2 linked regions of the Homo sapiens genome follow. The protein of the gene in region 2 interacts with the protein of the main gene of each other region in a biochemical or structural test. Each region holds a gene or a part of one and is shown on either strand. Other genes may lie near its edges.

What was found.
Region 1: the proteins of TFR2 (region 2) and DCLRE1B are reported together in a solved structure, tested with the Homo sapiens proteins (one study listed by BioGRID).

What each region holds. Positions count from the first base shown.
Region 1 is NC_000001.11:113,903,950-113,908,236, forward strand, and holds the start of DCLRE1B (5' exonuclease Apollo), read left to right. Parts: upstream 1-1,376; 5' UTR 1,377-1,637; coding exon 1,638-1,826; intron 1,827-3,046; coding exon 3,047-3,212; intron 3,213-4,059; coding exon 4,060-4,242; intron 4,243-4,287. Other genes in the region: AP4B1 (AP-4 complex subunit beta-1), read right to left, coding at 656-768.
Region 2 is NC_000007.14:100,628,041-100,631,848, forward strand, and holds part of TFR2 (transferrin receptor protein 2), read right to left. Parts: coding exon 3,766-3,808; intron 3,186-3,765; exon of another isoform or gene 3,116-3,185; intron 3,013-3,115; coding exon 2,849-3,012; intron 1,333-2,848; coding exon 1,213-1,332; intron 267-1,212; coding exon 184-266; intron 97-183; coding exon 33-96; intron 1-32. UniProt on the Homo sapiens protein: Mediates cellular uptake of transferrin-bound iron in a non-iron dependent manner. May be involved in iron metabolism, hepatocyte function and erythrocyte differentiation.

The sequences.
Region 1 (4,287 bases), on a different chromosome or scaffold from region 2:
TGTGAACCATAGCTGTAGGCAAGAGTTATGTGTTCAGGTATGTATAATGGAAAAATTCTGTCTCAAATGAGGCAAAGTGGCCTACTAGTAAGCTGCTGCAATTGCTTTATTGATGAAGGCCTGGACCAGAACAACAATGCTAATAAACAAGAGAGGATGGATATTTAGAATTATGAATTCAAACCATCTGACATAAGAAGTGAGAGATCAGGTGTCCTCAAGGTTGGCTCCCACGCATAGTCGGCTGCTGGTGGCATTCATCAACACAAATGTAAGCTGAACAGGTTTGAGGAAGACGGAAGAATGTCCGGGCTATTTCGGACATACTTTTGATAAACCACGCACGTGGAAATGCCAAGCAGGCAGTGGGATACGTGGGTCTGAAGCTAAAAAAGGAAGTCTGTACTAGCTATATTATAGATCCAAGAGTCACCAGTAATTGCTCAAGCCCGTGATATGGAGGAAACTACCCAGCTGAGTAAAAGATGCTGCAGAGGGGAGACTGACATGGTACTCCAAAGCAGCAGGACGAAGACCGAACCATATAACTGCCACGTGTGAAAGCTAATTCACCCTTTCAGAGAGACTGGGGCTAGTGAGCCCTGATGGGGATTGCAAAGGGAGCAGTTAGCACGCGAAGGGAGGTAGGTGATACCTAATCACTCGCTGGATGACATTCCGGTAGCGCAGCCTATCAGCTTGAATGTGAGGATTGCACAGAGCCTTCTTCAGCTCCTTCACCACGTCCTCGGAGCCAAGGTACGGCATCTTCCTAAGAGTCACAGGGCAGCTCCCACAGCTCCCACGGTAACTCGAGGGCTCCTTCTCGTCCTGATGTGGGAGCCTGAGTAAAGGAAATATGAGTCAGTGAAAATACAAAAGGCGAGATCTCGCCTCAGGCTCGGCTTCCGTAGGGCCGGCACGCTGGCCCTGACACACTTCCACGCCCTCCGCGACACCGCGAGCCCCACCCTAGGCTCTTCAGGCCCTACCGTCGGCCGGCAGGCCGTTCGCCCCGCCCACAGATCGCTCCCGCTACTTCTAGGTCCTCCGCCGGATTTCCAGCGCCGCGTCCGACTGACCGCAGACCCCTCCCTCTCCAGTTCCAGCCTTAATTCCCCCTCCACGCCGTTCTCATCGCGGATAGGCCCAATCTTGCTTTCTGCGGAAGTCCCGCCCCCTTGTCAAGAGACCAAACAGAAGACCGCTGCCGGTCTCCCCGCGAGCGAGCGCTAAGCGTAGTCCCGACTCCGACCTTAGGATGCCCTTCCCCCAACCTCTCACTCTCCAGGCGCAGCTGCGCGGCTCCCTCTGGTGGAGCTGCGGCGGGCAATCGGAAATCGGCTACTTTGGCCTGTCTCCTCCCTGCAGCGCGCGCTTTGAGTGCCCGGCTCGGCCTCCGCTCCCGCGCGGTTGGGAGTGTCCAGCGCCCTCCGCGATTTGGGCTCCAGCGGGCAGGGTGACTTCCTTTTTCTGCCCACTCTGGTAACTTATTGCTCTGCTGGGCTCTTTCCCTTAGGGTCTCTGGCCCTGTTCTTGCCCCAGCATGACTTTTATCGGGACGCCGTTGTGGAAGCCTCACGCAGGAGCCCTGCCCCCGTGGAGAAGATCCCACTGGTGACTCCAACCCTACCACCATGAATGGGGTCCTGATCCCCCATACGCCCATCGCAGTGGACTTCTGGAGCCTGCGCCGGGCTGGCACCGCACGTCTCTTCTTCTTGTCTCACATGCACTCGGACCACACCGTGGGCCTGTCTAGCACCTGGGCCCGGCCCCTCTACTGCTCCCCAATTACAGCCCACCTCTTGCATCGTCACCTACAGGTATGGGGCTGGAGTCGGTCTCCGAGAGCTGGTCCAGGCATCTGGGTTGGGACTTCAACCTGTCATTCTTGGAGTCATAGAATGGGGGCCACGAAAACTGATTTGGAAGTTGTTTGAACCCAAAAATGCATCTTTAACCCAGAATAGGAACGTGTTTTCGAAGTGACCAACTTGAGATAGTTAGCCATAAGTTGAGGAGATATTTTAATCCAGCCAAGGAAACTATTCCTACCTTTATAAGTAAGCTAGGCCGATGTTTCCCAAACTTGCCTTTTTTTTTTTTTTTTTTTTTTTTTTTTGAGACGGAGTCTCGCTCTGTTGCCCAGGCTGGAGTGCAGTGGCGCAATCTCGGCTCACTGCAGCCTCCGCCTCCCGGGTTCAAGCGATTCTCCTGTCTCGGCCTCCTGAGTAGCTGAGATTACAGGCGCACGCCACCACGCCCAGCTAATTTTTTGTATTTTTTGTGGAGACGGGGTTTCACCATGTTGGCCAGGCTGTTCTCTAACTCCTGACCTTAAGTGATCCGCCCGCCTCAGCCTCCCCAAGTGCTGGGATTACAAGCGTGAGCCACCACGCCCCGCCTAAACTTGCCTCATCTTAAGAATCCACCTAATGTGCTGGGTGGTTCTCCAGCTCTCTCCCCACCCCACCCTTAAGTCTCCAAGAGATTAAGATCAGGAGTAAGTTTGGGAATTGCTGACTAGACTGTTTGCTGAACTCTTTTTTTTTTTTTGAGATGGAGTCTCGCTCTGTCGCCCAGGCTGGAGTGCAGTGGCGCAAACTCGGCTCACTGCAAGCTCCGCCTCCCGGGTTCACGCCATTCTCCTGCCTCAGCCTCCCGAGTAGCTGGGACTACAGGCGCCCGCCACCACGCCTGGCTAATTTTTTTTGTATTTTTTAGTAGAGACGGGGTTTCACCGTGTTAGCCAGGATGGTCTCGATCTCCTGACCTCGTGATCCACCCGCCTCAGCCTCCCAAAGTGCTGGGATTACAGGCGTGAGCCACCACGCCCGGCCAGCTGAACTCTTAAATTGTACAAAGGGTGGGATGGGAAGTGGAAGGAGGAAGGGCAGATTGCTTGGGAATCCCCATTACAGCTTCTGCTCCCGGTGGCTCAGGATTTGGTCAGCTTTCCTGATTCATGTAAGGGATAGTCCCTGACCCGGGGAGGTAACGGAGAGGAGTCAGTGGTCACTGGGATGACTAACTGTTTTCTCAGGTATCTAAGCAATGGATCCAAGCCCTGGAGGTTGGTGAGAGCCATGTATTACCCCTAGATGAAATTGGACAAGAGACCATGACCGTAACCCTCCTCGATGCCAATCACTGTCCTGGTTCTGTCATGTTTCTCTTTGAAGGATATTTTGGAACCATCCTCTACACAGGTGGGCCTCTCAAGGAATCCCAGTGACTTCTCCAGACTAGATGTTTTTTTTTTTTTTTTTTTTTTTTTTTTTTAATGTATAGACTGGGGCCTCGCAGTGTTGCCGAGGCTGGTCTCAAACTCCTGACCTCAAGCAATCCTCCCGCTTCAGCCTCCACAGTAGCTAGGATTATTGGCACAAGCCACCACACCTGGCAGACTTTTCTTGAGCAGCCTTAACTCAATAGAAGTCTGGAGGCGCTGGAGGCCTTCTAACTTCATCACATATGAGCATAGTGACCCCATCTCAACTGATTTCCCACTGTTTTTTTTTCCTTCTTCTTTTTGAGACGGAGTTTCACTCTTGTCACCCAGGCTGGAGTGCAGTGGCGTGATTGTGGCTCACTGCAACCTCCGCCTTCTGGGTTCAAGTGATTCTCTTGCCTCAGCCTCCCAAGTAGCTGGGATGACAGGCGCCTGCCACCACGCCCAGCTAATTTTCGTATTTACTATTAGTAGAGACGGGGTTTCACCATGTTGGCCAGGCTGGTCTCGAACTCCTGACCTCAGGTGATCCACCTGGCTCGGCCCCCCAAAGTGCTGGGATTACAGGTGTGAGCCACTGCGCCTGGCCGATTTCCCACTCTTTAAGGGTCCGAACCTTGTGAAGAGTAATTGAAAAATAGGAGTAGGATGGAGACATTACAACAAAGAAACCATGCAGCTATACTGCCTAGTTCAGTGCCAGGCTACATAATAGTTTTTTCACAGACTAGTAAGCAAACGCCTGTCTATTGTTGGAGGTAGGAGAGGCTTGTCTTCTATTCTTTTGTCTCTGACCTTCTGCCCCCATGTACATATTCCTCCAGGTGATTTTCGATACACACCATCCATGCTAAAGGAGCCAGCCCTGACACTGGGGAAACAGATCCATACTTTATACCTAGACAACACCAATTGCAATCCAGCCCTGGTTCTTCCTTCCCGACAAGAAGCTGCCCACCAGATTGTCCAGCTCATTCGAAAACACCCACAACATAACATAAAGATTGGTGAGTTGTTTCCTTTCAGTTTCCTGTCACCTGTAGATAGTGAAC
Region 2 (3,808 bases):
GGGGGCCAGGTGGTGGCACTGCCCCAGCTCACCCAGCACTGCGTTGTCCAGGCTCACGTACACTACGGCTTTGAGGTGCAGCACGCTGAGGTAGCCCTGTGGGTGGGTGACCAGTGTGGAGTGGGAACCCCCCACCCCCACCTCTCCCCAATGCCTAACGACCTGCCCGGGACCCCGTATCACCTCTAGCCACTCCGTGGAGCCCACGCTTCCAAAGTCACCACCGTCCCAGCTGATGAAGAGGAGACTTCTGCGGGGCCGGAAGCCTGGGGACAGAGGGGAAGGAGGACAGGCTTAGCAGGGGCCAAGCAAAGACCCTCCCCTTGTCTTCTTCTGTCCTGGTCCCCCAGGGTCTCTGTTTCTCTGTCTCTCTCTCTGAGACAGGATCTCACTCTCTCGCCCAGGCTGGAGTGCAGTGGTGCAATCATGGCTCAATGTAGCCTTGACCTCTCAGGTTCAAGTCATCCTCTTGCCTCAGCCTCCCAAGTAGCTGGGATTACAGGCATGCACCACTAAGTCCAGCCAATTTTTAAAAAACTTTTGTAGAGATGCAGTCTCCCTATGTTGCCCAGGCTGGTTTTGAATTCCTGGTCTCCAGCGATTCTCCTGTGTTGGCCTCCCAAAGTGCTGGGATTACAGGCATGAGCCATCACGTCCAGCCCAACATGCTTAATCTTGACACAGACCCATGGACTATGATTATCATTCATGTCACTTTTTTTCTTTTCTTTTCTTTCTTTTTTTTAGAAGGAGGCTCATTCTGTTGCCCAGGCTGGAGTGCAGTGGTGCGATCTCGGCTTACTGCAAACTCCGCCTCCCAGGTTCAAGCGATTCTCCTGCCTCAGCCTCCCTAGTAGCTGGGATTACAGGCGCCCTCCACCACGCCTGGCTAATTTTTGTATTTTTAGTAGAGGGTTTCACCATGTTGGCTAGGCTGGTCTCAAACTCCTGACCTCAGGTGATCCATCTGCCTCGGCCTCCCAAAGTGCTGGGACTACAGGCGTGAGCTACCGCACCCGGCCTCACTTTCATTTTTAGGTGACGAAATAGAGGTGAAGTGACTGGCCCAGGGCCACTCAGGTACAATGTGGATGCCGAGGTCCAAGTGACCACTGGCCAGTCTGTGTCCCTCACTGCCTCTCTGCCCTATCCTCCTCGGGCCACAGGCCCACCGCTGCCTAGCCCAGGCCCAGGCCCTGGCCCTGACCTTACCGTTGCTCACCATGGAGGAAAAGGTCCGCACCAGCTCCAGGAGTATAGCCGTCCCCACAGCGGATTTAGCTGCTCCTGGGCCCCATGCATCCCTCTGGGCCCCGATGACAACGTAGTGATCTGGGGAGGGGATGTTTGGGACCCACTTCTGACACTGCACCCTGCACCCTGGGGGCATCCTCCATCTGCCTGTGTCTCTCAGCCCATCACAATTCCGGCAACCCTAGCCCTGCAGTCCCTCCAGTCCCTAAAGAGGGCGCCCCTCCCCACTTGGCCCTTCCTGGATGGTGTGCTCCTTCAGCTGGGTGCCTGAGGTCATTCTGGACTTACAAGGTTTCTGTCACCCAGGCTGGAGTGTGCAGTGGTGTGATCATAGCTCACTGCAGCTTCAAACTCCCTGGCTCAAGCCATCCTCCTGCCTGAGCCTCCCAAGTAGCTGGGACCACAGATGTGTGCCACCATGCTCGGCTAATTTCTTTTACTTACTTACTTATTTATTTATTTAATTTATTTTTTGGAGTCTCGCTCTGTTGCCCAGGCTGGAGTGCAGTGGCACGATCTTGGCTCACGGCAAGCTCCACCTCCCGGGTTCACGCCATTCTCCTGCCTCAGCCTCCTGAGTAGCTGGGAGTACAGGCGCCTGCCACCATGCCCAGCTAATTTTTTTGTATTTTTAGTAGACAGGGTTTCACCATGTTAGCCAGGATGGTCTCGATCTCCTGACCTCATGATCCGCCCACCTCGGCCTTCCAAAGTGCTGGGATTACAGGCGTGAGCCACCGCACCCAGCCAATTTCTCTTATTTTTAAATTTTTTGTGAAGTCTTGGCTTTGTTGCCCCATCTGTCAATTACTTATTTTAATTCTCCACTGCCATCCACATCTAGCTATGCTTGAAAGGGCCATCTATGCTTCTATCTAATCTGATCTGATCTTTCTTTCATGCTTGAGTCTTCCTTCCTTCCTTCCTTCCTTCCTTCCTTTCTCTCTCTCTCTTTCTTTCTTTTTTTCTTTCTCTTTCTCTCTTTCTTTCTTTCTCTTTTTTTTCTTTTTCTTGAGACAAAGTCTTGCTCTGTTGCCCAGGCTGGAGTGCAATGGCACAATCTCGGCTCACAGCAGCCTCCACCTCCTGGGTTCAAGTGATTCTCCTGTCCGAGCCTCCGGAATAGCTGGAATTACAGATGCATGCCACCGGGCCCAGCTAATGTTTGTATTTTTAGTAGAGACGGGGTTTCACCATGTTAGCCAAGCTGGTCTCAAACTCCTGACCTCAAGTGATCCACCTGCCTGGGCCTCCCAAAGTGCTGGGATTACAGGCGTGAGCCACCACACCCGGCCCATGCTTGAGTTTCTATTACAACATCATCCAACTTAGGCTTACTCACTTCCAGTGCTGGGGAGCTCACTACTGGGCAACAACCCCCATTCCATCACTAGACAGGCTGGAAGGTGAGGTCTGTTCACTGCTGCCACCATCAGACCCAGTTCAGCCTCAACTTGCCAGCTTCCCTCCTCTGGGCACCACTCCTGTCCCCTCTTGGGGCCTCCTGCACCAGCCCCCTATCTTGCCAGGGTGTATGGGCAGAAATTCCCCCAGCCCACCACCAGCTGTGAGTGATACTGGACACACAGCATACCTGGCTCTGAGCGGCCTTCGATGCAGCCGAAGATGTTGTTGATGGGGGTGGAGGTCCTGTGATTGTTGACCACTAGCCGCAGTCGTGGCCCGGGGCCCAGGTGATAAGGGGAGCCTAGGAGGCTCCCCTGCCATTCTTGGGGGGCCACAGGGCCTTTGAGCTTCCTGGAGAGGAGGAAGGCAGAAAGGGGGAAGTTGTAGAGAGACCCAGAAGAGTCCAAATCACTCTTTTCCTTATTTCTTTCCCTCCCACCCTTTCTGGCTCCAGATCGCTGCCTCTGGACGCTGCCTGGGTAGGGCAGTGCAGTCAGGGCTGCCTTGGATGGTTCTCAGCTGAGGTAGGTGTGCAATCCAGTGGGAACTTTAGTTGCCAGACAGTAGACCCTGGAGAAAGGCTGTGTCCATCCAGAAGAGTCACTTTTTTTTTTTTTTTTTTTTTTTTTAAAGAGTCAGGGTCCCGGCCAGGCATGGTGGCTCACACCTGTAATCCCAGCATTTTGGGAGGCCGAGATGGGCGGATCACTAGGTCAGGAGTTCGAGACCAGTCTGGCCAACATGGTGAAACCCTCTACTAAAAATACAAAAATTAGCCGGGCGTGGTGGGGGGGCACCTGTAATCCTAGATACTCTGGAGTCTGAGGCAGAAGAATCACTTGAACCCGGGAGGTGGAGGTTGCAGTGAGCCAAGATTGCACCACTGCACTCCAGCCTGGAAGACAGAGCAAGACTCCATCTCAAAAAAAAAAAAAGGTCAGGGTCTCTCTGTCTCCCAGGCTGGAGTGCAGTGGTGTAGTCATGGCTCACTGCAGGCTTAAACAAGAGTCACCTTTTTCTAGTTCACCCACAATCACCCTGTGGCCTCGCTGCAGCCTTCCTCTCTCTGCTTCCTCCTCTTCTGGTCCCCAACACTCCCCTCACCTCAGCAGGCGGGAGGCAATGTCTGCACTGATGGGCTGGGCTG